Linked DNA regions of Homo sapiens: all the other regions are linked to region 4. Evidence: fine-mapped QTL for protein levels in blood plasma. A gene starts in region 4. Each other region holds a variant in brackets. All regions are shown on one strand. Distances are between the middles of the regions. Region 1 has its middle 12 kb from the start of PRSS58. Region 2 overlaps OR2F1 (olfactory receptor family 2 subfamily F member 1). Region 3 has its middle 29 kb from the start of PRSS58. Region 4 holds the start of KEL (Kell metallo-endopeptidase (Kell blood group)).

The links. PIP is the posterior inclusion probability: the model's chance that the variant is causal. Protein levels are from antibody-based Olink assays in UK Biobank. Linkage for the fine-mapping came from a reference panel and not from the study's own genotypes, which makes the PIPs less certain.
Region 1: its variant is fine-mapped to the plasma level of the KEL protein (UK Biobank, PIP 0.91).
Region 2: its variant is fine-mapped to the plasma level of the KEL protein (UK Biobank, PIP above 0.99).
Region 3: its variant is fine-mapped to the plasma level of the KEL protein (UK Biobank, PIP 0.95).

Annotation. Positions count from the first base shown.
Region 1 is chr7:142,241,492-142,249,763 of GRCh38, forward strand. It overlaps the pseudogene MOXD2P. Among named protein-coding and RNA genes, the nearest start is that of PRSS58, 12 kb to the right of the region's middle. RefSeq lists an enhancer at 4,053-5,252. The variant A/G (reference allele first, on the strand shown) is at 4,604.
Region 2 is chr7:143,962,382-143,970,653 of GRCh38, forward strand. It overlaps OR2F1 (olfactory receptor family 2 subfamily F member 1), which reads left to right. Exons shown (of 3, transcript NM_012369.3): 3 at 1-1,979. Among named protein-coding and RNA genes, the nearest start is that of OR2F1, 12 kb to the left of the region's middle. The variant T/C (reference allele first, on the strand shown) is at 4,185.
Region 3 is chr7:142,283,204-142,291,475 of GRCh38, forward strand. It overlaps the pseudogene PRSS3P3. Among named protein-coding and RNA genes, the nearest start is that of PRSS58, 29 kb to the left of the region's middle. The variant C/T (reference allele first, on the strand shown) is at 4,946.
Region 4 is chr7:142,958,602-142,966,873 of GRCh38, forward strand. It overlaps KEL (Kell metallo-endopeptidase (Kell blood group)), which reads right to left and starts at 3,762. Exons shown (of 19, transcript NM_000420.3): 1 at 3,603-3,762; 2 at 3,194-3,271; 3 at 2,759-2,900; 4 at 2,327-2,503. The coding sequence starts at 3,605. RefSeq lists a silencer at 3,526-3,721 and a cis regulatory region at 5,844-6,245.

The sequences.
Region 1 (8,272 bases), 720 kb before region 4:
CTTCATGTGCACCCCACGCTCTCCTTATATATGGCTTTCTCAGTTTTTTCCTTCTCCAGAATTCCCCATCTCTATGTGTCTAAAGAAGGACTCATTCACCTACGTCACATGTTCAGTTCACTGTAGTAGGATCTCATGATTCTTTCCTGTGAATTTCCCTAGTGGGTTATTCCCGTTCTTCTTGTATGGTATATATCACTTACTAACTTGTGATATAATCATTTGTAGGGCGGTATTTTTTCCTCAGTTGCCTGCAACACCTTTTGAATCCCACAAGCACTGAACCACTCCTGATGCACAAAACGGGGGATTTTCTTGTGATCATAGAAACAATAGCCAACTTTAATTGAGAATCTACTACAAGTCAGGCAATGATCTAGGTGTTTTGCATGTGTTAACCAACTCCCACAACAATCTTGTGAGGTAGAAAGTAGTATTAATCTTATGTGAATTGGGAAACTGAGATACAAAAAAGTCAAATAACTTGTCTAAAGTTAGAAATGTACTAAATGATTGTGCTGATATTCAAACCCAGGCAATGAGGCCCCAGAATCTCTGCTCTTAGTCGCTATAGCATACTATATTTCCATGGTCTTGGTGGGTTATTGGCAGATAATGTGAGAAATCCCTGTTCCTATCTTAGATGCATGGGGTGTGAGAACATGAAAAGCCCCGTGTGGATGTGTGATGCCATTGGAGGAAGGAAGGGGCTTCAGTGAAATCACAGGGGTCACTGGGTAGCCAAAGCCATGAGTGGGCTCTCCACTGGGGCTATGGTCATGGTGACCATGGTGGGGTGAGAGGTCACTTACAAATGTCATGGAGTCACGGTCCAGTGTCTGGTAGTGACATTCTACCAGCAATTCATCTCCCTGTTCAGAGTGAAACATGAAGGCTGAGAGTAAGACACAGAGGGACTGGTACAGCTTGAGAACTTTCTTGGTTGTCAGTAATGAGGTATGATGCTGCTGCCCCCAACTCTGCCTGGCCTCCCTCAGACTCTCACCGGCTTGATCTCCACTCTAGAGGGCAAATCTCGAGTCTCCTGCAGGTTGAAGTCATAGGAATCGTCTTTACAGATTTTTCGAAGTTGTGTTCCATTCCTAGAGGAAGAGAAGTCGGGAATTCAGAAATAAAGAGAAGATGAAATACAGAGGGGTCTGCCAATAAAGATGTAGCATGCGGGTGGGGTCATTCTGTGAGTAGATTATCCATAAAAATAAACAAAAAACTTCATCTTCCACAGTCTTATTTCAGTTATTTCTACTCTAAAGATAGTTCTACCTCTTCCTTTTTCTCAACCGGACATAATCGTATGCTACAGAATAAATCACTATTCTTAAAATTCATTCCCACCTGCAGAAGGGAGAGCTTCAAGGTCTTCCCTCACCTGTATTGCACTGCTTGCAGAGCCCGTCCAGCCAAGTGGGTGTGCAGCAGGTAGCCATACACCTGTATGTCAGGCATAGGAGCTCCATTCATCTGTAACAGGGAAGAGGTGCACCCGATTTGTTAAGGACTGTGTTCTTGACCTGCTGCTTGATTTCCCCCCCTTGGTATTTGACACTTTCCTCTGATGACTGACATTTACCACTGTAATTCTTATTGAACCTTTCTGACCCTTCTTCCTTCTGCACTTCCCTTGTTCTCAAAGCCCTGACTCCTTCCCTTCCTTGCAAAACTCATGTTAGTGAATCTCCTGAGCACCAGGCTGTAATTATTCTCCAAGTCTGGGGTTCAGGCTGTGTGGGCTTGTGGATCTGACCAGATCTGGGATGGGGGGTAAGGAGAGTGTGTTTCCTCCTCAGGAAGGGTGCGCCTCCCAGCTCCACCTCCTCAAACTTCTCCGTCCTACACAGCCCATAGGACATGAAGGACTCAGCGCCCGGGGGGATGAAGTGGATGGGAAACGTGAAGAAGCCCAGCTGGAGGACATCCGTGTCGTATTTGCGCAGCTGAGAAGTGTAGTACACGCAAATCCCCGAGGAATCATACACACCTGGTGCAGAGAGGAACAGTCAATCACAGGAGGCAGGAGAGTGGGTCACAATGTGGAGAGAAAGAGGCTCAGGAAAGCTGGGGTGGGGCTTTGACAACAGGGAGTCAGCACACATCCCACAATGCGTTCCCAATACCGAAAAAAACAGCCAGCCCCACCAGCTTCCCTTCCTTAAATCCTCTGGATGCTCACCAGGAAGGTTGTTAAAATTGCTGTAATGAATCTCCAGTCGGATCCACTGAAGGTCCAAGGGGGTCCCAATAGAGACTCCTACGTCATCTGGAAACTGGTAGCTCTGTTGGAAGGAGTTAGATTTGGCAGCAAGAAGGGCTGGGAACCAGCCATAGGGATTCAGGGCTCCTGGCCTTGTTTTCTAATTGTCATCCCAGACTTCCCCTATCCCCTGGTCTTCCACCAGCCCAGTGATCTCATTACCCAACCACATGCACCCGCTTAGCCATGTGTTTACCCCATCACGGGACTCACTGTGCCCCCGACAGCCCAGCCCACGATGACCTGTGAGCAAAGGGAGAAGGCAGGGTCGGCCCCATAGCAGTCGCTGATGCCTGTGGGGAGAACGCTAGCATTGCCGCAGGCGTACACCAGGATGTGATGCACCGTTGTCTCATTGTGGTAGACCAACTTAGGCTCAAACTGGGCAGAAAAGGAGAGCAGAGCATGATCAAGACCTTCTACATCAAATCCATATTATCTTCCTTCCTGTCAAAACTATACCCATTTCCCTCTTCTCTCTGTTTCTCTCTCTCCCTTTTTCTCTGTTTTTGTTCCCCAAGCTACCATTTTCCCACCCACTCAGTTTGACTCTCCTCTCAACTCCCCTCTCCTTTAAGCCCCTTCTGGAGAGCAGACATGAAATCTAGCCAGGGACATTCTGCCTTCCCTTAGTAACCTCCTCAGTTCACTGTATCTGAGCATGTAGCCATGCCTTTTCAAATTATCTGTCTAAAGAAAGAAAGTCTCCACATTTGCCACATATTGTGAGATCATACCTTTATTTATTTGATCAAAATTGAAATCACTCAAATATGAAATTGGGTTACCAAGTTTGAGTTCATTCTAGCTAGACTTCTTCAACCTCCTGACAGCCCCTGGCCATATCCTCTCCCTGCCTTTACCTCCTCTTGGGCTAAGAGAGCACAATTCTGGGGCCAGGTTGAGGCTCATACTTTGTTCTTTGCAAACAATTATTAATTCTTAACCTTCATCAACATGTCTGTTGCATTGTGGGGCTTAAATAAAATAGCGCTGGGAGTTACATTTCTGGGCTCAGGAAATGATGTAGCCGCGACCTCTACCAAGCCCTGCCTGTCCCCCTGTTCTTGCAACTACTTCCTTCTTGCTTCCTCCAAGAAATTTTCCAGACCTCATCCTCCAGGGTTGACCACACCCCCTGCTCTGCTCCAGCACCCTTCCCTGCCTTGACAATGTCCCCCATCTGGTCCACCATACCTTGTAAATGTGATGCTTCTCGCTCACAATAGGGAGAGGAAGAAAGGTGCAGGCATACGTGGTGTCATCCTCTGGAATGAGGAACTGTGGAAGGGTGCACAGAAGCTGAGCCAGATGACAGTGAGGCTCTGAAAAAGTAGGGCAAGGGCCAGGCCAGGGAAGGGGGTTCACATTAGGGTCAGATTGGCAGTCCTTAGGAGACAGAGAAGAGTCAGAGTAATCTCCACCCAAGGGATGTACTGAATACTGGGGGCAAGAGAAGGGATCTGGGTTGAGTGGGGTGAGGAGAAGGGAGCTGGAGGCTGCTGGGTGGGATGAAGGTGTCTTACATTAGTGATCTCCAAGTCATGGATGATGGTGTCCTCAGGGACATCCAGATCGTCAGGGTGGACGACTTGTAGCAGAAAGATGGACTTGACAAAAGTACGCTCCCGATACAGCTTCAGAGTGTCATCCAGGCCATAGGTGGCCAGCACCCTCACGGTGTTGCTCTGCGGGGTGCCATAAGCATTGAGGAGCTGCCACCCCTGAGCAGCACTCTGCATATCCCTGCACCCAAGGACCTACACAAGGCACTTGCTCATGTCTACATGGTGGAATGGAAGGAGCTTCACACTGGGAGTGAGAACTAGTTAAGTTCTATTTCTGCCTCCGAGGCTCACTTGCTGGTGATCTTGAGCAAGTCACACTCCCTCTCGCATGCCCTCTCTAAGCTTGTGTCCACATCTGTAAAATGAAAGGACTGAATTAAACTCTTATATCCTAACACTCTAAAGGTCAGCGAAACTGGGCAGAATTCTTCAAAAGGAAAACCCTGGGGCAGGTGGGCAGGAGGTGAATCAGTGGGAGGTCACCCTGCGGAAGGCTTGTGGATTTCAGCAGGTGGCACAATTGGAGCATTTCCTGGGAAGGCTGAGAGGAATAGAAGTCCTGGGAATGATGACTAGCTGCCTGACTGGGGGCAACTACCTCTCCAGAAGGAAAACCTGCTTGTGATTAAATGCTTTTCTCTGCTCTCTATTTTACCGTAATATCCAGGTCATGAGGGTCGCAGGAGCGGAAGGGCCTGGAAAAGTGCATGGTGGTGTAGACAGCATCTTCCGTCAGCCGCAGCAGCTCAGCATCCTGGCTCCC[A/G]TCCTCCTTCAGAGTGTCTTCGTCCACCAAGTGCTGATCCTTGGGTCCAGTGAAGGTCAAGAAGTAAGAACTAGGAGCTTCAAATGTCATGCTTTGGAGCAGTAGCTGTTCCTTTAGCTCCCCTAGGATACTACAGTAGCAGAGCCCAGGTGTTCTTTATTATGTAGTTTTTCTCCTTGGGCAAAGCATGGCATGAAGAACATGGCAGAGCACACTTTTATGGATAATGGAGTTTCACCACCTGTCCTTGCTTTACTTCTCCCATTTCAAATCTCATGTCCATAAAGTCTAATATTCCTGCATCCCTAATACTTGAAGTCTCACATATTATCTGAAGTATGTATGACATTCATTCTCTCATGTGGCTCTTCATGTAACTATTTCTCAGACAGCTTTGAATTTTCCCTAGTGACCTGCATTTAGTGGGCTTTAGCAAGTAAGTGGTGCAAGACTATCTCACAATCTAATGGTTTCATTCTCTCAGCAGTCTTAGAGACTTGCAGTCTGGAAGACATAGATTTCAAACTCTACAATGGACCATTTCTGGAGGGACACACCAGCATTCAGCTGGCATTCTGGGAGTGTGTTTAGATATCCTCGGGGAATGTGAATCCTTTCTGGACAGAAACCATCCTCAACCCAACAAAGACCCTCATCCTTGGAAGCAAGTCACCCTCACACTTACCGAGAAATAGACATTGCCATTAGGCAAGACTCCTCCAACAACCAGATCACTTCCCACGTTGGTGTAGCGATTTGTGACACCGAAGCCCACCCAGCCAGCTGTACGGACCTGGAGCTCAAAACTGATGATTTCAGCCTCAAGGTCAAAGTCCCAACGCAGGAAAATGACATTAGAAGGATCTAGGAACCTGGAATAGCGCAGGCGAGATGTGGGGCCAAGGCGGTTGCTTTGTAAGGGGACTCCCAGGGCCAAAAGTGGAAAAAGCCTGAAGAGAAGGTCATGGGCCATGGCTCCTGGGACCTGGAGCATCTCCCTTGCAGATGAACATTCGAGAGCTTCAGAGTTTTATGTCCTACCTGGGCCAGGCACCATGCCATGGGGGAGGGCCAGGCTGGGGCACTTCTGATCTGATTATCCTCCGGGTTCAGAGCGATGCCCCTTACATAACTCTGGAGGTGAGAGGTGCCCAGAGAGGATACAGGGCAGGTTGCTTTCACTCTGAAGCAGGGGCCTGGCAGAAAATTCTTAGGATTGAATCATTTAGACTTTCCACCCTGACCCCATGCCAGCGTCCTGCCAGTGGGGACCCTGCAGAATCAAGAAAGTTTAGTTTCTTTTTCTCCCCCTCCCTTCCTGCCCACCTCTTCCATCTTCTATCCTGGATGTCTTTACAGGACATTCTGCCTCTGGACTATGCCCCCACCCCACTTTTTGTGGGCATTTCCCATTTTGTCTATGTATAGAACTTCGGTACTAGCAAGGATGTGGGACTGCTTGTAAACCTAGTCTTTCAATTTCCCAGTGCAGTGCAGGAAGGAGGGAAGTAGCTGGCAGGGACCGGAGGGAAGGCTGCAATTTCCATCTGCTAGAGGAGGCTTTGCTACTAATCCCTAGAAGGACACTGAGAGGAGGGATATCAGCTTCTCAGATGGTTGAGTCGGGCAGCTTTGGTTTTCTGCACACTCCTAGGGAGGAGCAGGAAGAGAGAGGAGGTGAGGGGAAGAAGATGAGAAATAAACATGAGTTTGCCTTTGGGATGCTTTGTGCTTTCCCTTCCGGCCATCAATTACCTTTCAGAGAAATTAATTTAATGGCTGCATGGCAGGCTGAGCTTGCCCGATTGAGCACATTAGTATTATGCAAACAATGGAAGCAACACAGAAGGAAGGTTAGAATATTAGAACACCAGAATAGAAAAGAACTTTAGAGCCACTTAGTTTTCCAAAAATTTCTATCTCCTTAATTTCTAGATGATGAAATGGGAGCTCCAAAGGGTAACAAGAGTGGTGCTTGATGCCCCGTTGAGTCAATGGTGGGTCATGGTCCCTGACCATAATTTCCTTAGGTCACAGACACCCTACAGGTACCAGACCCCTGCCATGCATTTCCACATGGCTTGTCCTGGTGGAAGAATTTAGTGACATTTGTTGGCTGCTTCTTAGGGAAGAAACCAAAGTCTGACTCTAACTCCACAGTATTTTCCCCCTGGTGACTGACACAGCTGACCTAGAGCTAGAAGTCACCTCATCTGACCCCTGGTTGCTGGCTCTCCACTTGACAATGGAGAGGACATGGACCCTGAGGGCCTCTCCCACACAGACTGGGCCTCACCTCTCCACAGAGGAATTCAGCTCAGGAGTAGATGTACAGATGCCGGCACGATCTGCTTACAGCTTCTCATTGCAGGCATAGTCTTTTTTTTTTTTTTTTTTTGGCTACTGAGCTCATCAAAGCTGGTGAGGACCCAGCTAAGGTTGTTTGCTGCTGCTGTGAGCACTTGAGTAGTAATTGGGGTGTGGTGAGGGAGAAAACAAATGCCTCAAGGGGGCAGCCACAGCCCCTAACTCTAGGCCTGACAGAGAAGGCAGGGAGCTCGGCAGCCATCTGGAAGCAAGAGGCTTATCTTGGCCCAGGACCAGAGCTGAGCCAAGAGAAGAGGAGAGGTCGGAGCCTGGGAGGCACTGACCTTGAGGAGCAGTAACACCAGAGAGAGAGAGATAACAGGTGCGTGGAGACATTCTGATCCCAATCTCACTTAAGGATTAAGGGAGGGGGCAGTAGGGAGACAGGATAGCCAGTCTTGTAAATTGAGACGGGCCCAGGATCCCTTATCCTGCAATCTGTCCTGCTGGACAGAGCACTGTCCTCAGCACAGAGGCAAGGTCCTCAATAAAGAGCTGGGAGCAGTGACTGCAGACTCAGAGGGTCTCTTCTCCTGGATCCTTATCTGGCTTCCACCCCAGGAAGCCAGGCCATTGCTACACCTGTGTGAGGCTCTCTAGGGAGATGGGGCTGGGGCTGGCCCTGCTTCCCTTCTGCATTTATCAAGTGCCTGTGACAGGGAAGACACCACAAGAGGGTCACCGACCTGAGGGCAGTGCAGTCCCAGGTCTTGAAATAGTGAAGTTCAGTTTCTAAACCCCTCTGTGCCTCCTTCTTGCTCTCTGTAAAATGCTGCGGTTGGAGAGATGGTGGATACAGGGCCTTTTAAGTTGAATTTCCCAGATGATTGGTTTCCAAGCTTTCTGAAAAATGAGGCCCCTTATCAATGTTGAAAAATAGGTAAATCTCATTCTTTTTTATGACTGAACTTAAAGAATGTGATTGGATTGTTTGTAACCCAAAGTATAAAGGCTTTTTTTTTTTTTTCTGAGACAAGGTCTCACTCTGTCACCTAGGCTGGATTGCAGTGGCATAATCACAGCTCACTGCAGCCTTGACCTCCCAGGCTCAGGCGACCTTCCTGCCTCAGCCTCCTGAATAGCTGGGATTATAGGTGTGCATCACTATGCCTAGTTAATTTTTGTATTTTTTGTAGAGACGGGGCTTCATCATGTTGCCCAAATGCTTGATGTGCTTATTTCACATTCCATGCCTGTATCAAAACATCTCATGTACCCCATACATGTATATACCTACTATGTATGCATAAAAATTTTTTTAAATAATTTTTAAAATTAAAAAAATTCTGAGAATTTAAGCTT
Region 2 (8,272 bases), 1.0 Mb after region 4:
TGTCAATAAATGGTTGTTGCACACAATAGTCAATATGATACCATCATAACAAGGATAATCTCACATAGTAGGGAGGACAGATGATGAAACAATGATAATGCATTGTGGTAAGTGTTACAGTGAAGGGGAGCCCACTGGAAATGATTGCAGAAGGCTTCCTATAAAAGGACCCTTGGATTGAGACCAGAAATGTAAGAACAAGTTATCCAGAAGACAAGAAACCCAAAAAAGAAACAACCTGTACAAAGTTGTAGAGATGTGAGCAAGCATGAAAGTCCAAAAAATGTTGGAAGTTCAATTTCAGGGCAGAGAAGAGTGAGAGAGTAGTGAGGACGAAGCAGACGGGTTAGACACGGTCAGATCCTGGAAGGCGTCGAATGTCTAAGTATCTTTTAACTTTATTCTAATAGAAAACAATAGTCCGTCAAAAATTTTTAGAAGGAGTATAGATTGAAAACAATTACATTTTAAAAGTATCACTCTGGCAAATGAGATAGTGGAAGAAAAGATTAGAGGCAAGATGACCAGCCTGTCTGCTGGGTCTGCTTCAGTAATACTCTTGAGACATTCGAGACATCTGAATTAAGTTAGATGCAATTGGAAGGAGACAAGTAAAGTGGTGTCATTTAAAAGTGATGTCAGCTAAAACACTTCATCTCCCAGATTGGAAATGCCATCTGAATATCATTCCTCTTCTAAAATGTGAGGATGCTGTCTGAACATTCTGTAAATTGTGTAGTAAACTGGAAAATTCACCATCGTGAACATGCTCTATATGAAATGGTATGGGAAAGAGATAAGAAGAAAGTAATCAAAAATACAAACATACACATAATACATCAAGGAGGAAAATACGTGAAGATGCTATATCTTCATTTCTGCCAGCGGTCGTGTGGTCACGGTGTTCGTGACATTTCTCCATCAACCATCACACAATCCTTTGCCTTCAAACAACTCCTAAGCATGTTGGGGTTCTTCCTGGAAGGGTTATCCAAGTCTTGATATCTCAGGAAGCAGAAATGCTGAGAGTGGGCATTAGGTATGTAGAAATAGACTACTATAGTCTCATATTCTGTATTAGTCAGGTTTCTTTAGAGAGACAAGACTAATAGGATAGATGAATATATGAAAAGGAGTTTATTAAGGAGTATTGACTCACACGATCAAAAGGTAAAGTACCACAATAGGCCTTCTGTAAGCTGAGGAGCACAGAAGCCAGTTGGAGTTCCAAAACCTCAAAAGTAGGGAAGCCAACAGTGCAGCCCTCAGTCTGTGGCCAAAGGCCCGAGAGCCCCTGGTCAACCACTGGTGTAGGTCCAAGAGTCCGAAAGCTGAAGAAATTGGAGTGGAGTCTGATGTTTAAGGTCAGGAAGCATCCAGCACAGGAGAAAGATAGAGGCCAGAAGACTCAGGCAATCTAGTCCTTCCATGTTCCTCTGCCTGCTTTTATCCTAGCCATGCTGGCAGCTGATTAGATGGTGCCTACCCAGATTGAGGATGGGCCTGCCTCTCCTAGTCCACTGACTCAGATGTTAATCTCCTTTGGCATCACCTCCATAGACACACCCAGGAACAATACTTTGTAACCTTCAATCCAATCAAGTTGATGGTCAATATTAACCATCATATATTCCATCTATTAAATTTCAATTTTTATCTTTTTTATTTGATAGAGTTTTTAATTTCAAGGCTGCACTTTCTCGGTAACTTTAATCTTCATAAATTAAATTAGTTGGATCACCTTAAGACTACACACACTTCTAATTCATAGCTGCTTGTGAAGGACATTCCCAATAGAAGGCATGAACATTGTCTTGATACAGGAATACAAAATAAGATGCTATTCTAAACTTTATTGTTTATTTAGCCATTAAATAGAAAAAATTTAAAAAGACACTGAAAAGTATTTGAAAATAAAATATTTTTCATTAGTTAATAACCATAAAAACACCACTGAAGGTTTTCCTTAAAAATCTAATACATATAAAAATTACAGTTTGTTCAAATAAGAATCTAAATAAGACCCATATATTCCAATTGTCTACTATGCCTCTGAGAATTCTTTTACTCTATCAATTAATAAATTTATAGTAAATTAGTAACCTATAAATTCTACTTTTTTACTGTTGGAATTATTTTTTAAATAAAACTGTATCATTTGTTCCTGTTGGATTTCTCATACAGTCTAGATTTTTTGATGACATCCCTATAGTGTAATTTTACATGTTATTTTATTTCTGTATCTCCTGTTTAATCCAGAGGTTTCATCAGGTTTATTTTTTTTTATGACAATGGTATTTCATAGATGGTCACATGTACTTCTAGCAAGAAGCACACAATGTTTGTAGCAAGAAACACAATGTTCCTTTTTTTCTGGGGATTATTACAACTATTATATTGCATAGGTCAGGAGTTTTCAAAAGTGCCAAATATCTATTGACATTTTGGGCTGAATAATTATTTGTTATGGGGGCTATTTTGTGCATGGTCAACATTCCTAACATCTACCTACTAGATGGCCCTAGTACTCCCTCCCAACTAGGCAATGCCAATATTGCCCCTGATAGAGAAGTACTGACCTAGCTCTATTAATTTTTTAGGGGTTTCAAGGTGGTGAGAGTCTATCATCCTTTTCTCTTTATTATCTAAAATACATTTATAGAGAGAAACTTCCACCTCATCACTCTTTCATCCTCCTGAGGTATAGTTGGTATGAGAAAGGCAGAATAAATTTTTTAATTTTTCCCCTTTCGTTGCCACTTTTTAATACAACAAATGAGGTGAGGTTTTTTTCATTATAGTTATGAACTCACTGATGTGCATTTATTTGATGTGTCTTAATCCACAGCAGTTATTGTCTTTATTGATGTTCAAACTGTCCCATATTTGGTGAACGTGAGCCTATTTTAGTTTCTTCTTCCTGTTGTAAAAGTAGGAATTCCACAAGTTCCACCTTATCTTACAAAGTCCCACAAACTTTGTGACTCAAAACATTACAAAATTATTATCTTAACATTACAAAGGTCAGAGTCTGATACGGGTTCTACTAGGGCAAAATCAAGCTGTTGACAGAGCTGCGTTTCTCCCTGGAGACTCTGGGGAACATTCCATTTCTTGCTTTCTGCTTTCTGAGGTGACTTCCACTCCTTGGTTCCTGGCTCCTCCTTCCACAAGGCCAACAGCACAGCAAACCTTTCTGTGACTCTGATCCTCCACTCCATTCTGTCCTCCATATGATGACAGAGAAATGATCCTCTGTCATCACATATCTTTCTTCTGACCCTGATCCTCTTGCCTTGTTCTTTACAAGAAACTTGTGATTACATTAGGGCCACCCAGATGGTCCAGGACAATACCCCCATTTAAAAATCCTTCATTTAAATGCATCTGCAAGGCCCTTTTGTCATGTACAATAGCATATTCACAGGATATTCCATATTCACAGGATATTCCATATTCACACAGGAACCTTAGTGTGCTACTATTTGCTACCCCTCATTTTTGTACTTTTATTTTCAAAGATTTTACATTAACATAAGCTATGAATACAAATAATTGCTATGCTCTTTCAGCTTTTGCTGTGCAGAAGCTCTTTAGTTTAATTAGGTCAATTATCCTGTAGTCTGTTAAATATTTAAAAGTGAATTTTTTTTTTACTTTGTTATTCTTTTTTTTTATTATACTTTAAGTTTTAGGGTACATGTGCACAATGTGCAGGTTAGTTACATATGTATACATGTGCCATGCTGGTGTGCTGCACCCATTAACTCATCATTTAGCATTAGGTATATCCCCTAATGCTATCCCTCCCCCCTCCTCCCACCCCACAACAGTCCCCAGAGTGTGATGTTCCCCTTCCTGTGTCCATGTGTTCTCATTGTTCAATTCCCACCTATGAGTGAGAACATGCGGTGTTTGGTTTTTTGTCCTTGCGATAGTTTACGGAGAATGATGATTTCCGATTTCATCCATGTCTCTACAAAGGACATGAACTCATCATTTTTTATGGCTGCATAGTATTCCATGGTGTATATGTGCCACATTTCCTTAATCCAGTCTATCATTGTTGGACATTTGGGTTGGTTCTAAGTCTTTGCTATTGTGAATAGTGCCTCAATAAACATACGTGTGCATGTGTCTTTATAGCAGCATGATTTATAGTCCTTTGGATATATACCCAGTAA[T/C]GGGATGGCTGGGTCAAATGGTATTTCAGTTCTAGATCCCTGAGGAATTGCCACACTGACTTCCACAATGGTTGAACTAGTTTACAGTCCCACCAACAGTGTAAAAGTGTTCCTATTTCTCCATATCCTCTCCAGTACCTGTTGCTGACACCTTTATCTTAGAAAATAAATTAGGCTACATCTCCTTCTTAGAACAAAATCCAAACTCTTCCTGTGCGGAGCCTGTTATGGTCCAGCTGCTCTTCCCTCCCCATTTGCACCTGCATCCTGTCTCCCTTCTTTCACTGCATGTGTTCATCCATCAAGGGTTGGGAGAAAACAGATAAATCTCTATAAAAAGAGAATGTATTTTTCTACAAGTCATATGTATTGATGGAGAAAATGATTCTAGACCTACAAGATATTTGTGTGTGTGAAATCTTGGACTTAATCTAATTTATTTATACATATTGCTTTTCAATGGAAATTTTGAATTCTATAGATTACTGTCATCAATGACTCGGCTAAAAATTGTGTAAATTTTCAAAAATAAAGCTGTTTTGATCCCCTACTTTTCAAAAGAAGAAAACCTGCTTTCGCAGTGGGCAAAAAGGGCAGTGCTGTCTTGGGAAGTTAGACTGTAAGCTTCTTGAGAGCAAGGAGGATGCTCCTTGTCGTCACAGTGCCTAACAATGCTGTTAAATTCATGCTCATTGTATAATTTATTGATGGACATGTTCTTTGCTATTTTAAGAGTTGCCTTTTATGAAGTATGTAAAGATCATACATGTTAGAATTTAGGATATTAGAAAATAAGGCTTTTTAAAATCTCCAGTGCAGAGATAATTGGTTAATAATACTCCTCAGTATATGGAATAACACGAGGGCCCTCTTACTAATTTTTGAAAATTTATTACAGTCATATATTGCTTAACAACAGAGACATGCTAGGAGAAATGTGTCATTAGGCGATTTTGTCATTAGGCAAACACCATAGAGTGTAGGTACACAAACCTAGATGGTGTAGTCTACTACACACCTAGGCTAGATGGTATAGCCTGTTCTCCTAGTTTACAAACCTGTACAGCATGATAGTGTACTGAATACCGTAGGCAATTTTAACACAGTGGTAAATATTTGTGTTTCCAAATATATCTAAACATAGAAAAGATAATGTGTTGCTATGACGTTCCAATAGCTGTGAAGTCACTAGGCAATAAGAACTTTTCAGCTCCATTATAATTTTATGGGACCACCATAGTATATGAGGTCAGTCATTGAGCAAAACATTGTTATGCTGCATATTGCATTAATTCTCTTTTATCTTATTCGTAATGTCCATTTCTTCCTGGTCTTTTGGCCAACTATTCTAATTTGTTTAATGCAATAAAATATGTTTGAGAGTGCATTTATGCATTTTTAAAAAAATGCATTATGTTGTTATCTGTTTGATTCTATGTATTCATTTTCTCCATTCAACACTATATTTTTTGGGTTTTTTTTTTTTGTTGTTGTTGTTGTTGTTTGTTTGTTTGAGATGGAGTCTCACTCTATTGCCCAGGCTGGAGTGCAGTGGCGTGATCTCAGCTCACTGCAACCTCTGCCTCCCGGGTTCAAGCAATTCTCCCCCTCAACCTCCTGAGTAGCTGGGACTACAGGCGCATGCTGCCTTGCCCGGCTAATTTTTTGTATTTTACTAGAGACGGGGTTTCACCGTGTTGCCCAGGCTGGTTGTGAACTCCTGAGCTCAGACAATCCTCCCGCCTCAGCCTCCCAAAGTGCTGGGATTACAGGTGTGAGCCACTGCGCCCAGCCTCAACACTATAAAGATTCATACATATTGCTAGTCTACAATTTCTAATTGTTCACAATGAGCAATTATGAATCCATGGTGTTCACAATATTCTAGCTTTCATTCCCGGTAGCTAAATATCCAATTCCCCAGCACCTTGGGATTCATATCATGACACAGGCTCACTTAAAGACCTGTGTGAAAATTTCTTTGGTGTATTTACAGAGGAACCGAGTTGCTAGGTCATAGTGATCCCCAGAATGGCTTTATAACTCTATACTCCTACTTCAGTGCACAATCTTTCCTTATGTACAACTTCAACAACACTTGGCATGTTTTGATTTTTTTTTTAGCTAAAAGATAAAATTGTTTTATGTTCCATTACTCTGAAAAGTAATCAGACACGGAGTTTTTTTCTCATGTTTTTCTCATGCTGAGTTCCTGATTCGCACCCATTCTCACTCTGTATCATTCTGTTCATGCCTTCCTTGTCTCAGTTCATGGTAACTTCGTCATTGCAGTGATGAGTCCATTCACCACTCCTTTTTCTCATACGGGACTCAAATCTGCAAAAATATCCTGTTGCCCCTACCTTCAAAATATGTGCGGAATATGATCACTTCTCACCTCTGCAGTCACTCCCTGGTGTGAAACACCACCATCTCCCACTTGGGTTACTTCAGTAGAACAAACTTCTCTGCTTCACTCTTGTGTCCCAGCAGTCAGAGGGAACCCTTTAAAATATAACTCAGCTTTGGGAGGCCGAGGCGGGTGGATCACGAGGTCAGGAGATCGAGACCATTCTGGCTAACATGGTGAAACCCCGTCTCTACTAAAAAATACAAAAAATTAGCCGGGCGTGGTGGCGGTGCCTGTAGTCCCAGCTACTTGGGAGGCTAAGGCAGGAAAATGGCGTGAACCTAGGAGGCGGAGCTTGCAGTGAGCCAAGATCCCGGCACTGCACTCCAGCCTGGGCGACAGAGTGATGCTCCGTCTCAAAAAAAAAAAAAATATATATATATATATATATGTGTGTGTGTGTGTGTGTGTGTGTGTGTACATATATACGTGTATATATACACGTATATATATATACGTATATATATACACGTATATATATATACGTATATATATACACGTATATATATATACGTATATATATGTATATATGTATATGAGTATGTATATGTGTGTGTGTGTGTGTGTGTGTGTGTGTGTGTATGTATATATATATATATATATATATATATATATATATATATATATATATATATATATAACTCAGGCCATGTCATTACCCTGCTCACACCCTGCATTTACTAAAAATAAAATCCAAAGTCTTTCTGTGGAGATGGGCCTGTTTTCTATCTAGACTCTTTTCCTGGGATGCTCTTTCCTTAGATAGCCACTTCCTCACCTCTGTCAATTTTTCATTCAACCATCATCTCTTCAAGGAGATTTACATGACTGACCTATTTGTTACAACAAACTTCCTTCCTGACCCATACTCCCACTCCTTCTCCCCTTGATTTATTTTCCAAAGAACTTATCTTTTCTAGCATTCTTTGCAATGTATGCATTTTTAAATATAGGTTTCCCTTCACTGCCCCATATATAAGCCCCTTGAAGGCAGGGCTCTTTGTTTTTTAAACTAGTATATGCCAAATATCTAAAATAGTGCCTGTCTTATAGAAGGCACAAAGTAAATATTTTCTGAGCGAGTGAAGCAAACTGTTAGCTATTTGGGTTTTTATTGTTGTACACTGCATGTTCATTTTCTTTGCCCATTTTTCCTTTGGGTTTTTTGCCATTTCTTTACTGATGGATATATTATAGGTGTTAGCCCTGTTGTGTCATACCTACTGCAAATACATACTTCTAATCTGCAATCCCTCTGTTCACTTTATCCATAGAGTCCTTTGTTGAACAGAAGGTCTTCATTTTGAGGCAATCAAATGCATCACTTTTTTATTCTGTGATTTGTGCTTTGGAAGTTTGTTTTTCTAAAAAAATAAAATCCTGCATGTAGGTCACAAAATACTATATTTTTTATTTAATTAGGTTTTTAGTTTTACCTACTATAATATTTCTTTAGTATATCTGACATTCACTTTTAAATATTTGTTAAATATAGATCCAGTGTTATGTTTTCCAGTGTTCCATTTATTAGACAATCAATTCTTTACTCATTCATTTGTAGTAATTTTAGTGTGTATTAAGTTTACCTATGTCTGGGTCTGTCTTTGAACTCTCTATTCATTCCTGTTTGTTATTTCATCTGTTCTTACACCATGCAATTCTAGCATTCTATTTTTTA
Region 3 (8,272 bases), 680 kb before region 4:
GTATGAGAAATTACCACAACACAAAGTTGTGTGAACTGTGAAAGTTCCCCTTACGAATGAAGACAAAACTAACTTTCCAACAGTTCTTCAGAACATATGGCCTTATATTTTCTGTTTGGAAAACAGTGTACTCTACTGCTATCAGATCTTTGAGCCAGAAGCTGGCCTTGGAGGAAACCTGTGGCCTTTCACTGCATGGGTCCCTCCAAGTCTAATAAGAGTCTCAGAGGCAGAGCTGGCAAGGGCTAAGAACACTGCAAATAGAAATGGACCACAAAAATAGGAAAGTCATTTAAAAAATGAAGTTGGATTATGCACACGGACGTGTCCTTAAAAATAAACTCTGTTAAGTAATGAAGGCTTTGCATGGGGACTGTGTACATAAAATCACAGTAGACTGTTGAGGTCATGTTAGAGCGCTTATATAACTCTCGGGTAAGTTTTGATGAAGGGATTTGTGCCTTGCAGTGAGAAGATGAGATCAGTTAGTAAAGGAGAAAATGAATTGATTTATTCTGTAGAAGTAGGGAGCTTGTTAAAAAAATGGAGAAACTAAGAAATTATTGAAAACTATGATTTCTTCAAGATGTCTGGAAATCCTATAGTTTAGATGGCATACAAATAGAAAGTGGTTAGACTGAGCTAGTCAGAATAAATGAGTATCTCTAGGACTAAGACTTTTGTATTTGTGCCCCATCAACAAATTGACATTTTAAATTGACTTTTAAAAGTGAGACTAAATAATATGAAGATAGAAAATATTTTATTTTTTAAAGACATTTTAAAATTTGATTTCAAAACTAAAGTCACTTTCCATGAAAGATAAATAGTGGTGTTACAGCAAAATAATAAATTAAATAAGATTTATAGGGGAAAAGAGATAATTTATTTATAGAGATAAATTTAGCAATTTATCTTATTAAGACAAATGTTCTTATATAAATATTCTTGAAGCCCTCCCTACTCCTAAGCTTCCATTTGTGAATTTTTTAAAGACTTTATTAGTCAGATATTCTGTTCCTTGCAACTTCCTAAGAGATGTGTTCACATTTATACCTTTTTTTTTTTAACTTAAACGCTTATTTTATTAGGGTGAATTTATAAAAGCTAAGTTGTTGTTTAAAATGGCATATGACATATACAGTTTAATAAAAATTCACAAATTGTAAAGCATTAAACAAAATAAGAGACTGAAACTGGCAAGAATAAGTACTAAACAAACACTATTGGATAACATAAAGGATTAATAATTTGTTTGCCTTTTTCTTTTCTCTGGACCTGCCCTGATCTCTCATCTTCTGTGTATCTCACACTTCCTGTTAAGTCTTGGAACCTTCCCTCTATCTGGGGTGGGAAGCTGAATAGGTAGGTATTGATGGTGGTAATTAAGTGGAGCAGAAAAGTATTTCAGAGGGAACAGGGAAAACTTAATCTCATTTTGTTCAAGGCGGAAGCCCAAGATGTTTTAGTTGGGGTAGATATAAGGCTACCTATTTACACAAAGAGAGCTATATATGAAATTAATTTAGATTATACACAAACATAAAAACAATTCAATGAGAACAAAGGAAATAAGACAGAAAAGGTTAGTTGTGATCAAATATTTGAGAATGTTGAATGCAAGGCTAAGAAATTTTGGCTGCATTTTAGGGGCAGTGATAAGGCAGTATTAAGAGCTCAGCTTTTCTCTACAAACATGCCATCCATACTTACAAAAGGATAGAAAATTGCTAATGGGCACGTATACCTTTCAGTACTCTCCTCCTCTGAAATATTTATTATGGACTGCATGTTTGTGCCCCACTTCCCAAATTCGTATATTAAAAATTTAACCTCCAATGGGATGGTGTTGAGGTGGAGTCTTTGGGAGGTAATTAGGTTTAGATAAGGTCTAGAGGGTGGCCCCCATGATGGGATTAATGTACCAATTTGTAAGAAGAGAAAAAGGACTAGAACTGGCTCTCTTGGCCATGAGTGGATGCAACTAGAAGATGGCCATTAGGAAACGTGGAAGCTATCCTCACCAGACACCAGACTACCTGGTGTCTTGATCTTGGACTTCACAGGCTCCACTGCAAGAAATAAGTGTCTGTTGTGCAAGCCACCCAGTCTGCGATATTTTTGTTATAGCTGACTGAGCTGCCTAAGACAGTACCCTTCCTTCACCTTATCACTGAACCACAAATAAACTCCCATTTCCAACTGCCTCCACCTGTACCGTTCTGTTTTCTGATCCCAGTGTGTCTTTTCCTTTGTCTCATTCCAGATAACCATGAGAGTCACGTGCAGGGTCTTCTGCTCCAAGCCCTCCTTTCAATGCCACACAGAACAATGAAGATTTGAGGGACGACTCGTGGAAGAACTAAAGCCAGAGTCTGTGATGCACTCTTCAAACAGGACTGAAGAGAATAGATAATATATCTGTAGCCATTTATGACCTCAAGGCACAATATCTATTTTCTGCAAACTTATCTGAATTTGTACCTTTTTGTTTCTGTTTGTAGTTTAAATTAGTACATCATGTGGGCTGGGATTTGGGGGAACTTGTGGTGAAAAAGGGACACAGATTGTCTCCAGAGACCAGGCCTGCTATAGCAAATTTCTAGTTGGAAAACAAGAAAGATCTTGGAGGAAAGGAATATACAGGTAGGTGAAACCTTGGAAAACACAGGAAACCTGTGAATTTTAAATATTTCTGCATCTACAGGTTTCTGCTACCTAGCTTCCCAGAGTTTCAGATAGATTGAAGAAAAAGGAAAGAAAGACCATTCTGTTCTATCAGCAGCAATCCACTGGGAATGCCCACTTGGGCTTTATCTTAGCTTTACTGTGAATCTTTTGAATGATTTTGGGCAATTAAGTTTAATTTTCTGCATTTTAGTGTCATTATATCTTGTAAGGTATGAATGCATGATCTACCATAAAAGTTCATGTTTTCAATTAATTGATTTTTATTTTTAGAGATAGGGACTTGTGTCTCCTAGGCTGAAGTGCAGTGGCACAATCAAAGCTCACTGCAGCCTCAAACTCCTGGGCTCAAGTAATCTTCTCACCTTAGTCTTTCAAGTAGCTGGAACTACAGGCATGCACCACCATGCCCAGATAATTTTTTAATTTTTTGTAGAGGCAGTGTTGTCCAGGCTGATCTCTTAACTGTTGCCCAGGCTGATCTCAAAATCCTGACCTCAAGTGATCCTCTCAACCTGGCTTCTCAAGGAGTTTGGATTACAGGCATGAGCCACCACACCTGGCCCCAGAAATGCAAGTTAAAATACATACTGTGGCCAAATCTTAAAACAAAATTTATCTGACATATTTTTAGAGTTCTTGATTTTGTAAAAAAACAAAATGTGGTGGTAACAGTGACCTCTAAGCTTGTTCACCTTTTTATTCTCAATGTATCACATAGAGTTTGGCATATAGTTGGTGATCAGTAAACTTATATTGATTAGGTTGAATTAATGACTAAATAACTGCATTAGTCCATTCTCACACTGCTATAAAGACATGCCTGCAACTGAGTAATTTATAAAGAAAAGAAGTTTAGGCAGCTCATGATTCTGCAGGCTGTACAGGCTTCTGCTTCTTGGGAGGCCTCAGGAAACTTATAATCATGGTAGAAGGGAAAGCAAACACATCTTCATGTGGATGGCAGGATTAGGGGGGTGCAACCCACTTGAAACAAGCTGGTTTTGGGAGAACTCTATCACAAGAACAGCAAGGGGGAAGCCTGCCCCCACAATTCAATCACCTCCCACCAGGCCCCACCTCCAATACTGGGAATTACAATTCGACATGAGACTTGGGTGGGGACACACAGCCAAACCACATCAATAACCTTTCACATTTTCTCAATATAATAGTTTGGCCCTATGTCCACCTTCTTAACAGCTAGTTTCAAGAGAAAGTTAATCAATGCCGACAGGGACCATTCTTGAAAAGACGTGGTACAAGACAGTATATTTTTATTTAGATACTGTGTTTTGGCATAGAAAGAAGGTAAAGTTGATGAATAGGATATGGAACATGAAGAGATAAAGGTGTTTAGTTGGCAGCAATGGTCTGCTGAATCCATTTCACGTAGTTGCAAACTTTAGTGTAGACTCCAGGTTTGTTCTTCTGAGGACAACCATAGCCCCAGGAGACAATGCCCTGGAGTTCTCCGTTGCAGACCACAGGAACACCAGAGTCACCCTGGGCAAAAAGGAAGGGATATTCAGAGATCTTATTTATGCCCAGATGGGAGAATGGGCCGTAAGATGTTCTTCCATTGTGCTGGAGCCATTGTCCCACACTGCTGATCCAGCATGAAGCACTTTCTCTTCCTCTTGAAACCCTCCAACCCTCAATCTACTTACTATATCAGTAGTTAGTCTTCCTTATACCTTATTTGAGCCCCTTCTCTTTCCTTGGTAGGCCAAGTGGGCCAAGAGGAGGTTTCATGCTGCTTAACTAGCTCTGCTCCTTCCACTAGAGTTCCTTTCCACAGTTTACCTCCTCAGAAGGGCACTTAGAAATACTATTTGCACACCATCTTCTGTGCATCTTTTAACTCTTAAACCTAGACATTAATACAATAAAAATAAAATATTTAATTTGTCCCAAGGCTATCCCTCACCTCTCACAATCAGTTATAGGGACAGTTTTACAATCTTCTGTGTTTCTGAAAAGGGGAATTATGGTGGAGAAGACTAAGAATAAGCTGGAATTGAGAAGCAGTACAAAGAAACTAACCTGGCAAGAGTCCTTTCAACCCTCCAGGAATCCCAGACATATCATGTTTGTAGTAATCTTGCCTGGGTAGGCTGTGCGGCAAGCAGTGTTAGAGAGAATGGGAGCCTTCAGACACTGCAGGAGATCAGGGTAGTTGGCCGTGGAGTGGAAGAGTGAAAAATGCAAGATTACTCATGAGGTTTCCAAAATTTTCTTTCTCAATACATCTCCC[C/T]TCTTCCCCAATACTCTCACTTTTTCTTTCAATTAGCCAACGGCTTCTCATTTGAGAGAGCAATACTTTCTTTTCTAGAAGCTTTCCCAAATAGTTCTAATCAATGAATTGTTCCAATTCATTCCAATTGAATGCTCCAAGCAAGACCAAATCCCTGAGTCTTTGTTTTGTTTACCTCCTCAGTTTATAGTTCTCTGCCCATCACTAATCACACTTCAGTTAAATACCCTGATATCTTCATAGTACTTCATTATTATGTCTTCTGCATGGTTCCAGCAAAGGAATCTTCTTCATTTCAATTATTAATAGTATATTTCTGAGATTCCATGTATCCAAAAACTATGCTCTGGGAACTTAACCTTAAGTGAGTTTGGACTAGCTGACTTTCCACATGTCTTTCAGCTCTAAAATTGTCACACTTGGTACTTCTGTTTCAGGCGACACTAAAGCCACTGCTCAGGGTGTTGTCCCAGCCAGAGATGAGGCACTGAGTACCAGCCGCTGCACAGGATCTTGGCAGAGAGATGGTGGCCACTTGAGAGTTGATGGTGGCGACTGAGCTCAGCTTAATCAGCATGATGTCATTATCAATGGTGGCTGAGTTATACTTGGGGTGGCAAATAATCTTGGCTGCATTTATGAATTGTTCATTGCCTTCATAGACCTTAATGTTGTATTCTCCAAGATGCACATGGATTTGGCTGGATTAAAAGATATAAGAGGTTCCTAAGTATCTAGCTTGAGTTATTTCCACTCCTCCTGACCCCCCATTTATGAGCATAAACACAGACACCATCCTTTTCAAGCAATCGGTCATACAGTAATTGTGCACTTAAGGTAGCATTCTGCACCACCACATGGTACAGGTTAGAGTTTTCCTTAGAGAAGTGTCACTGCAAGTGCAGACTCACTGCCCGCCATCTTGTTAGAATAGTAAGGAATGGGAATGAGAACTCAAGGACTTGAATAAAACAGTTGGAGATAAAAAGGAAGTTGGTGGAGATTGATCAGCATTTGCCATTTCTCTCTGGTTGGGATCACCAGTTATCACAGGGAATGAAGCAGGAGTCAGAGAAATGGCAGAATGTTAAGGGAACAGAATGAATCATGCATATTTTTAATGTTGCACTGTAAATTCTCTGTATTTTATTACTTCCATATACAGTTTATACTGGCTGAGCTACAGTAATTAGCACTATGTACTGATTCATGTCATAAGCTATTTCTAGGGATAGTTCATCACTCACTATTTCCCTTCCATATCTTGAATACCATCATTTGGGAAGACATCAGGGAACCCTGAAGGGTACCTCTCCATGCAAACCCCCCTTTATACATCAGATAATGCCTGAGAAAATAAGAAGTCTCTGGAGGTCTGAATGCCTCACCCTCAAGCACAACTCTGCAGTTTACTCTGGATTGTGTTTTGTCAGGGATAGAGGATTAATTAATCTTAGTGCATAAGAAAATGAGTATCAATGAATTACGACTTATAGCAGTGAGCCGTGGACACCTCCCATTTGTTATTGATGAGGGAGCCACCACAGAAGTGATAGCCAGCATTCAGGGACCCTGATAGGGGACAGCATTCGTCTGACAGGTGTAGCCCCCCAACGATCTTGTCATCATCATCACTAGTGGGGAAAGTGGCTGACAGAGGAAAGTTGGGAACTATCAGTTAAACAGATTCATCTTAAAGTTTCTACAATATCATGAAAAGTTTTCTCAGATTTACCAAAAGAGCAGAACGTTCTCTTGTCTCACATAATCAGGAAATGGTGGCTTTAAGGTAATTTGGGGGGGAAATTTATTATCCCATACCTTTAAATTGTACCCCACTTATAACATTATAACTATCTATTTTTTAATTTATGCTTTAACTTTGATAAATGCATTCTTTTTTTAATATATGTACTATTCAGACACACACACACACGAGCGCGCGCACACACACACTCAAAGATCAGAAACTCTTGACACAGTAAATGTCCTGAATATCACTTCCTGAAGACACAAGGAAACTTTTTTCACAGAACTCTGCTCCGCAGCCATACAATTAGGTGTAATGCTTTTCAGTAGTCATGCTGATGTTGGTTTGTGGTCGTTGGTAGGATGTTGGTATGGGAGAGAGAGCCCCATACAGTAACAGAAAGGAAGCTTTAAAAAGGCACCTGAGGCTGGTTGCGGTGGCTTATGCCTGTAATCCCAGCACTTTGGGAGGCCGAGGCAGGCGGATCACGAGGTCAGGAGATCGAGACCATCCTGGCTAACACGGTGAAACCCCGTCTCTACTAAAAATACAAAAAATTAGCTGGGCGTGGTGGCGGGCGCCTGTAGTCCCAGCTACTCGGGAGGCTGAGGCGGAGCATGGCATGAACCTGGGAGGCGGAGCTTGCAGTGAGCCAAGATGGCACCACTGCACTCCGGCCTGGGCGACAGGGCGAGACTCTGTCTCATAAAAAAACAAAAAAAAACTAAGGCACCTGAGAATTTTCTCGTCTGGAAGGAAATTAGAGATTTATATTTTTGCTCTCCTAATTTCTCTTCTTGATTCCAGTCTAGAATTTTTATTAAAATCATTTTACAGAGCATTATAGGATGACCCTCTTCAGCCTTTCCTCTTATCCCAATTATCTTTCCAACACTTACGAATTTATTCAGCTTTTAAAGTCTAGCCCACTTTATATCTTGTAGCTCCAAAAGTTTGTGATTATATTTTATGAGCCCCATTGTTCAGATATTTTTAATAGTTTTAGGAAAGAAGTTAGCAGGTGTGTAGACAGATGAATTGAATTTATACCTGCCTAACTTGAGAAAATTTAGTATTAAGTTTTAGTCTTATAAAATTTAGTAGTATAAAAGGAAAACTCATCATTTTTCTATTATATTCATGATGAAATGACATGTTACTTTACACCAGAGAGATATCCATGGCAAAAATATCGTAAAACACAGCCCATAGCTTTTATTCATGAGAAAGAAAATTGCTTTTCCCTTTGGCTTTATATCACTAGCCCTTTAGTGTGGAGAAGGTGCAGGCTCTGACACCTGCAGCCTCTTTAAGAGCACACGATTAGTTTCAATTATTAACTCCAAATTCTTGGAAAGGTCAGGATAAGCGCCTCCTTAATCTGGGCTATCTTTTCCTTCTCTCTCCTTCTTCCTTAATATTACCCAGAAGTTGAGAGCAAGTCCTGTGTCTTTATATCTTCTACCCTGATCACTTTTGCTCACTGTGAACTTCCTCCAACAAGTGAAATTTAATTATCCACAAACATATGTATTTTGCACTGTTGTTTCAATATTTTAAGCTTCTTGAATACAGAG
Region 4 (8,272 bases):
CGAGACAAAGAAGAAAACAAAAATATTTTACCCCAAAACATGTTTCTTTGCCACATTTTGAAATGGCCCTGCAAAGCTGTTCTTTGTGGAGGAAAATTTGCATCTGTAAAGCATCTCTATTAGCTATTAACATATCTCATTAACATAGCTAGATCTTTTGATTAACTAAGATCTGAATAGGAAACATTTGTCACCTATTGTCTCTAAGGGCAGCCACTATAAGACTTCAAAAGAACTTCGGTCTCCGCAATCTTTATCTTACCCTGAACATTCCCTTTCTATCTATCCCAGATCTTTAGACAAACTCAAGCAACTGTCAATCCGGAAATGTTTAAATTCACCTGTACCCTGGAAGCCACCCCCACCCCTTTGAGTTGTTCCACCTTTCTGGACCAAACCAATGTATTTCTTAAATGTATTTGATTGATGTCTCATGACTCTCTAAAATGTATAAAACCAAGCTGTGCCCCAGCCACCTTGGGCACATGTTCTCAGGATCTCCTGAGGACTGTATCATGGGCCATGGTCACTCATATTTGGCTCAAAATAAATCTTTTCAAATATTTTACAGAGTTTGACTCTTTTTGTCGGCAGGAGAATTAAAGGAGTGGCAACTGGTATAGAGGCAAAGAGGGAGGGTGGGAGACAGGGAGCTTACAGGAAAGAAAGACTCCCACAGAATATGGAAGGAGGGGGAGGAATAGAGATGAGGAAAATAAGAAAGATGAGAGGACTGCCCAATTTGGAATGGATCAACTTGATGAAATGATGAAAGCAGGGAAAGAGAATGAGGAGAAGAAGACAATATGGAAAATAAAAGAAATGTGGGGAAGAAACCAAGAAGGAAAAGACAGGGAAGAAAGGAGAAAGGTAGCAATAAGTGGGATATGGGCAAAGGAGAAAAGAGAGAAATGAAAGACAAAAGAAATGATTGAAGAAATTAGACAAATTCAGGGAACTAGAGAACTTTAAGGATTTGGAGAGAAGAAAACTCATAAGGAAAGGTTTAGCAAAGAGAAGAAACAGGGGAAGACTCTTCTAGTCCAGACTCCTCATCCATTGATCCCAGGAAACAAACACACTACAATAATCAAATGCAAGTCTCTCTGAATCATCCACCCTCTAATATCTAACACTCTTTTCACCCTCAGTCCCCCTGATATCTATTCATCCCATTGTAGGCAATATAATTTATCCTGAGCATATTTTTTCTTTTTATCTCTGTGCCTTCCCTGAAAGTATCCATTTACCCAAAGAGAGGCCCCCTCCCACTCTTTCCCCATCAAAAAAAGAGGGCAGAGGGGTGCATTTACTTTTCCCAGATTCTAATTGATAGTGTCAACACATTCTTTAGGTTCCCTTGCACTGGAAATGCATGTCTATCTTATATGTTCTTATTCCCAAATCCTCACCACCATCCACCAACTTCCTGGGACGCACTTCCAACCTCCTACTCAGTTTCAGCTCATCCTTCTGGTTTTCCTCTCAGTCCTGGCAGTTTTCCTCTCCAGCCTCCATCTGCAGGAACTTTACTTCCACTGCCAATTAACTCAGCTCTCCTCTTCTTCCAGCATATCCTTTGTACTTACCCACTTTTTCTCTTATGCACAGTGATGAAGCCCTCTCTCACTTCTCACCCCACCATCCTACCCCTTTCATTCCACCATCATCCATCATCTCCAATCATCCATCTCTAACATCCCACTTGTTCCAGGTCAACTTGCTTGCCATGGTTCAAGGTTTCAATGGAGAAGCAAGAAGCAAGAGATCATTGTGAGAGAGGGGAGCTCCGGCATGGTGAGAGGGAGAGGGTAATGTTGACAAGGAGTCATTGGGAGACTGAGGTTTTGGAGGTTAGAGAATGAGAGTGATGGACAAAAGAATTGAAATGCAGGAGATGCTGAAGAGATGCTTGTGGAGGAAAACACCATGCATAGGATAGAAACTGAACATTTGGAGGAAGCAACAAAGATGGAGCTTGCTAAAAGGGACAAGTTGGAGAGAATGGAGTAATTATGGATACATGGAGAAGCAAAGAAGATGGAAATTAGATAAAGAAAAAAATGCAGAAAGGGACCAAGAGAAACGGAAGAAGGGTACCCAAGGCAAGGCAACAGGAAACAGTGAGAGATGAGCAAACCCAGGCAGCTCCCGCCATCCTGCCTCTTTTACTCCCCCATCATCTCCAATCATCCACCCGTATAATCCCACCTGGGATGGTGCAAATCAGTTGTTCCACAACTACACAGGGTTTGGAGCAGTCATGGTCATTTTAGGCACAGAGTCACCCACTTGCACAGAGCATCTTCCACCCTGCTTTCCTCACCCAGTATTCTCCGAAGTCGGTTTTTGTTCTTTGTGGCAAGCTCCTGAAAAGAATTATTGGTCTCTTTGGCCCTTCCACAGGCAAAGCTGAAGAAGTCGGTGCAGGGGGCCACACTTGTGTTCCCAGAGGCCAGGTAATGATCCCGGAGATCCAAACACACAGATGTCTCACAGGGGCCTGTGGGGAAAAGCTCAGAGCTGGGAAAGAAGAGGCAAAAAGACAAGGGCTCCCCCAAGGGGCTAGGCAAAGAACATCAGGTGAGTAACTAAGTGGGGAGCTGATGAAAAAGAAATGGTTAGGATGCAGGGAGGAAGAAGAACCATGGGGACCCCAAGGGTCAGGGTGGGCAGAAGCCCCAGGAGCAGGGACTGGGCCTGGGCCCCAGGGCTGGGGGAGGGCTGACTAGGTTAGGGGGTCTGGGATCTTGCTTACGAGGGCCACAGTTCTGGAAGTTGTAGAACAAAAGCACAGAAAAACAAAGGAGCAGGCCCAAAATCAGGATAGCTGTCAGCACCCGCCTGGCCACTGCCCATGGCCTGCTCCCTTCCACGGGCAGCCTCTCTTCTGGAGTGCTCTGTGGGAGGAACCAAGAGGTGAAAGATACAAGATGGGGGTTGAGAGACAGGGATGGGAAGAAGAGGAGAGAGAATGAATCTGTTGGTGCTACAGTCCCTTTATACAGAAATAATTATCCCAATTCTTCCTAAACCCAGCCCTACTTTAACTCCTGGGAGATGAGAAAACAAGGAATGTCAACTGTTTTGGGTGAGGATGAAGCAGACAGTTAGTAGATGAGTGTTTGTGGGATTTTAGAGCCGAGAGTGACAACATCAGTGTATTCCAGACCCAGGAGAGGAGGCCACTTACCTCTTGGCTCCAGAGAGTTCCCATTCCACCTGCCTGGCTGCGTTCCCTCGGCTCTTCCTCACTTTGGTCCCCACCTTCCTGAAGTGAGTGGAGGGAGAAGGAGGAGAGAGAAGCTGGTTCAGGAAATGGTGCATTGAAGAGAGTTTTATCAGGCCATTTTGATACCCTCGCTGCCTGCCCTGCCCCCACACACATATTTTTATCTCGGAGCAGTGTTCCCAGATGGGCTTCAGAACGAACCTGTCCCCTGAATGTGCCATTTCTCGATCCCTCTCCCATTACCTCCCTCTCTCCCCACCTTTCTACTCTGTAAGCCTTACATTCCCTCCCCTCCAGTGGGGGCAGGACTTTTGCACACAGCCACCCTCACCCCTCCCCGCTAAGCCTCTGACTCCAAAAGGGGACTTACCATCTGTCTATCTTCTGTGGCTCCAGAATCCTTCCTGGTTCCACTCTAGGAGCTGATTCGGAGGACTGGGGTCCAGGAAACACCCCCCGCCCCAGTTCCTTGATCCTGGAGAAGGGGCACTTCTGCTGCTCTTTCGCCTTGTCCCCAGACACACAGGACTGGCCTCTGGGTGGAGCCTGCTTATCAGTGGGGGGCACCCAGGCTTCTCCTCCCCCTTTATCTCAGCTTCTCAGGGGAGAAGAGGGAGGGAGTCTTCACTCCCCAAGCAATCTTGCCCTTGGTCTGCTCCTTTTGTCTTGCACTGTGACTCTGCCCATGAAGTTCCTTTATTTCTAAAATATTCTTCCTTCTCTCATTTCTTCTGTATTAAAAAAAATATGAGGCACAGTAAAATTTTAAAGAGTTTATTTAAGTAAGAAGCAATTCATGAATTGGGGAGCACCAGACCGACAAAGGTTTAGTGTTGCGATGACAAAATGTCAGAGGCAAGCATTTATTGGGAAGTTATAGAAGCAAAATGAAACATTATTTGCTTAGTTTGCAGTTACATAATTGCATTTTTTAGGTAACTTTTTGGAAAGTCCCTAGTCACATAATCATATGTTAGTTGGCTGCTTATCATTGGCTGGGGTTAAGTTTTATTTGTTGTAAGCATTTATCAGAAATTGACCCAAGTTAAGTTTAATTTATGTTTGTAGTTTTAGCAAGAATATGGCTATTTTTAAGGTCTTTGGCTTTGTTTGCCTGGGAATTTTTCAGGCCCAGTCTCCATTTTAATTTTGTTTTCACACCTCTCTGATTGGCTTTTCTGGGATTCATCAATTCCCAGGTCAAATGCCACCTTTCCCAGGAGGCCTCCCAGCTCCATGCCCATTCACACTGTTCCCAAGCATGCTTAATTGTTTCTCTCGGTGTTTCATAGCTCTGCTGGCTGCTGGCAAAGTCATGCATTCAAAAGATCACCCAGCTAGGAGACCCTAATCTGCTAATTATTAGCTCTGTGACAATAAACAAGCCACTTAAACTCTGAGGCAGGTAAGCAAGTTTTGTCATCTGGAAAATGAGGGTAATACTTGCCTATGCCTACCTCATAGGATCTCATGCCTTCTACAAAAGAATAAGGCTTTACTGAGCCCCTCTTTCTTTCATTCTGCTTTCTGTTACACTGATAGCTTGCCTCTTCATCTCCTTAGTGATTGAAAACTATGTCATAGCATGTACAGTGTCTGGTTTTCATTCCTGCCCACCCAAGATGCTTTCTAAATGTTAATAGAAATGAATTGCATTCCAAGCCAGAAATCCTCTTTCTCACATCATATTAAGCCCTTACCTGTGGTCTGAGAGAGGCAAGCACATTTCTGGGGGAAGGTGTTTCAACTCTGTCCTTGTTTCCTCATCCCAGGAAAAAAATAATGTAATTTATTAGGTTAGTCTTGCAAATGATCCCCTGGCGATATTTCCAGATTCCATCAGCACTGTGCTAGGGCCATGGTGCACTTGCCAGGATGAGGGTGGGTGTGGAGAAGTGGAGTAAAGCCATTGTGCCCCCTGGGGCCAGCTGGTCGGGTATCATGAAAGTCATAAAGAAAAGTCAGAACTTCATACATTAGAAAAGAAAGCATTGGGAAAAATAAGGCTTTTGAGGAAAGGTGTGGCAAGATACAATAATATCTAAGAAACGCCGGTGTGGTATTGGGGATCTGGACTGATTGGATAAAAGACAAGAAACAGAGTGGTTAGTTTGGTGTTGCAGGAGTGATGAAGGGAGGGCCCGGCCCAAGGGGATGGCAGAGGGGAGGGAAGTGCGTAGAAAGAAAAATTGTATGGAATAAAGTCATGGCAATGGATTGAATGGAGGAGGGGTTTATGATAGAGCCACAGAGGAGCTCCAAGTTGCATTTCTGCATGACTAGGGGAATAGTGATGCCAGCGAACAATGGAATTTTGATTAAGGGGGGAGTAGGAATCAGAGTGAGGGGAAAAAGCTGACTCAGGATTCTAGAGGTGTTTGGTCTGTGTGGGTACACCCTGATGGTGCCTCCTCTTCAAACTTCCCTTCCACAGAAAGTCCAATACTCTCCCCATGGGCTTTTAGCTTCCTTCACACATATTCCCTTCCTCACTCCTTTTCTATCAATCAAAGCCCCTGAGCTGATGTTTCCCTAGGAAGATGATAATGGAGACCACTTAGATTTGATAAGAGAAAGTTGAAGATGGAGTGTGCTCTGTGACATTTGCCTATGGACAGCCACCACAGCCTGGACTTAGGTTCTCTCCCTGTCAGAGAAGCTGAGCCAGCCACAGGGATAGGGCAGCACAGCTGCCAGGTCCACCATTCCTACTCAGCCTCCTCCTGAAGGCCAAGCAACCTCCATCCTGGGAGCTGTCTCAGGAGCAGGACTTCTTCTTATCACCCATATCCTACTCCATGGTGAGTCATCACCAGCACAGCCATACCCAGTCACGGGAGTGCAGCAGCCTTCACTCAGATCTAAGCCCCGAGAAGAGGTGTGTTAACAGCTGTGGCACATGGACCACATTTATCTTTTCGGATGCTGCCTCCTTCTTGCCCTCAATTGTCCTGTCTGTTTATTTTAATTCCAGGAGGTTTTGTTTCATGCCATAATAGTATCAAAATAAAATATTGGTAATAATAAAAATAACCACTTTTTACGGAGCACCTTCTTTGTGCTAGGAATGTGCTAAATGTTTTGCTTGTACATTTTCCTTCAGTCTTCACAGCAACTTTCTGAGGGAAATAACAGCTTTTATTTTCCCCATTTTATAGATGAGCGGTCAGAGAGATATGAAAGTACAGTGAACTTACTCAAAGTTACAAAATTAATAATTAGCAGAACCGAGAATTGAACCAAAGCCTTAACCATTGAGCCTCTCAGTCACTAAGTATCTGTTTTTTGGAAGTTTCTTCATAGTAAACATCTTCCTTCATCTAAACTCTTCTTTTTAAACTATGTTTCACTGCTTGGCCTTGTGAGGTGACAGTTTTGGGGACTAGTATTCTCAAACTCTCTAACATCCAGTTTCATCATCTGAAGATCATGGCCTTTGCCACAATGTTCTATCCATAATCAGCTGCCATCTACAGTGGATGTGGTATCAAAATCAAGGACAGGACATTAATCTGTCTATTGTGACACTCTCAAGTGTGCACATGACTGGCAATTTGCTTCTAAGATCACTCGATTGCAGTGATAGCCACTAAGAAGCTACCCCCTAAAGAACAATAAACCCAGTTCTGAGTGAACCGAAGTAAGCCTTGACATCACAAGCAATGTTGAGGACTTTGCCCAGAAGATGATGGAGAAACAGATCATGGGGGGCAGGTTTTGGGGTGCACTGATTGCTCTTTCAAAGGAAGCAATACTTGAGAATTGGGGAGCTCCTTTGGGAAAGAGTAGCTTGTAAGTTCAGTATACCACAAAGTGGCTTTTGAAATAATTTAAGTGATAAGTAGATGGACCTCTTTCAATATGTGTGTGTGTGTGTGTGTGTGTGTGTGTGTGTATATATATAAATATATATTTATATTATATATATTATATATATATTTATATTTATATTATATATATTATATATATATTTATATTATATATATATTATATATATTATATATGTAATACATATTATACATATAATATATATAATATATATATATATTTTTTTGAGACTGAGTCTCGCCCTGTCAGCAGGCTGGAGTGCAGTGGCGTGATCTTGGCTCACTGCAACCTCCGCCTCCTGGGTTCAAGCGGTTCTCCTGCCTCAGCCTCCCGAGTAGCTGGGACTGCAGGTGCACGCCACCATGTCCAGCTAATTTTTGTATTTTTAGTAGAGACGGGGTTTCACCATGTTTGCTAGGATGGTCTCGATCTCTTGGCCTTGGCCTCCCAAAGTGTTGGGATTACAGGCATGAGCCACTGCACCTGGTCCAATATTTTCATTTTTATATACATTTTTCTTTTATAGATATATGACTCTAAGAAGACTAAAATACATAGCCTCTGTATTTTTATTAAATCAACTAAAATATACTAAACAAATAATAGCTGTATTGGTACTTGAATATGTCAAAAACTTGAAGAAAATGCTCAGAAGTCTGGAGTTTTAATTATGTATGGGTAGAAACAGCTCAAAAGGAGGATCTTTGTCCTTTTTTATTTTCTTTTTGGTATTTTCTACATGCCACCACATTTTTCTTCCTAATCCAACAGGTTTTGAAGATAGTACTCTGAATACAGAGACTCTAATAAGTTGTGTCAATTCAACATATGTTTCCTCAAGAAAATTTACATAAGTTCTTGCTAAAACCAAGGTCTTAGTCAACTACTACCATAATAATGCTTTGTTACAAACCACCCAAAACTCAATGGTTAGAGGAACAAGCATTTATTCTTTTTTTTTTTTTTTTTTTTTTTTTGAGACAGAGTTTTGCTGTTGTTGCCCAGGCTGGAGTGCAATGGTGCAATCTCGGCTTACCACAACCTCCGCCTCCCAGGTTCAAGCGATTCTCCTGCCTCAGCCTCCCGAGTAGCTGGGATTACAGGCATGTGTCATCACACCTGGCTAATTTTGTATTTTTAGTAGAGACGGGGTTTCTCCATGTTGGTCAGGCTGGTCTCGAACTGCTGACCTCAGGTGATCCGCCCGCCTCG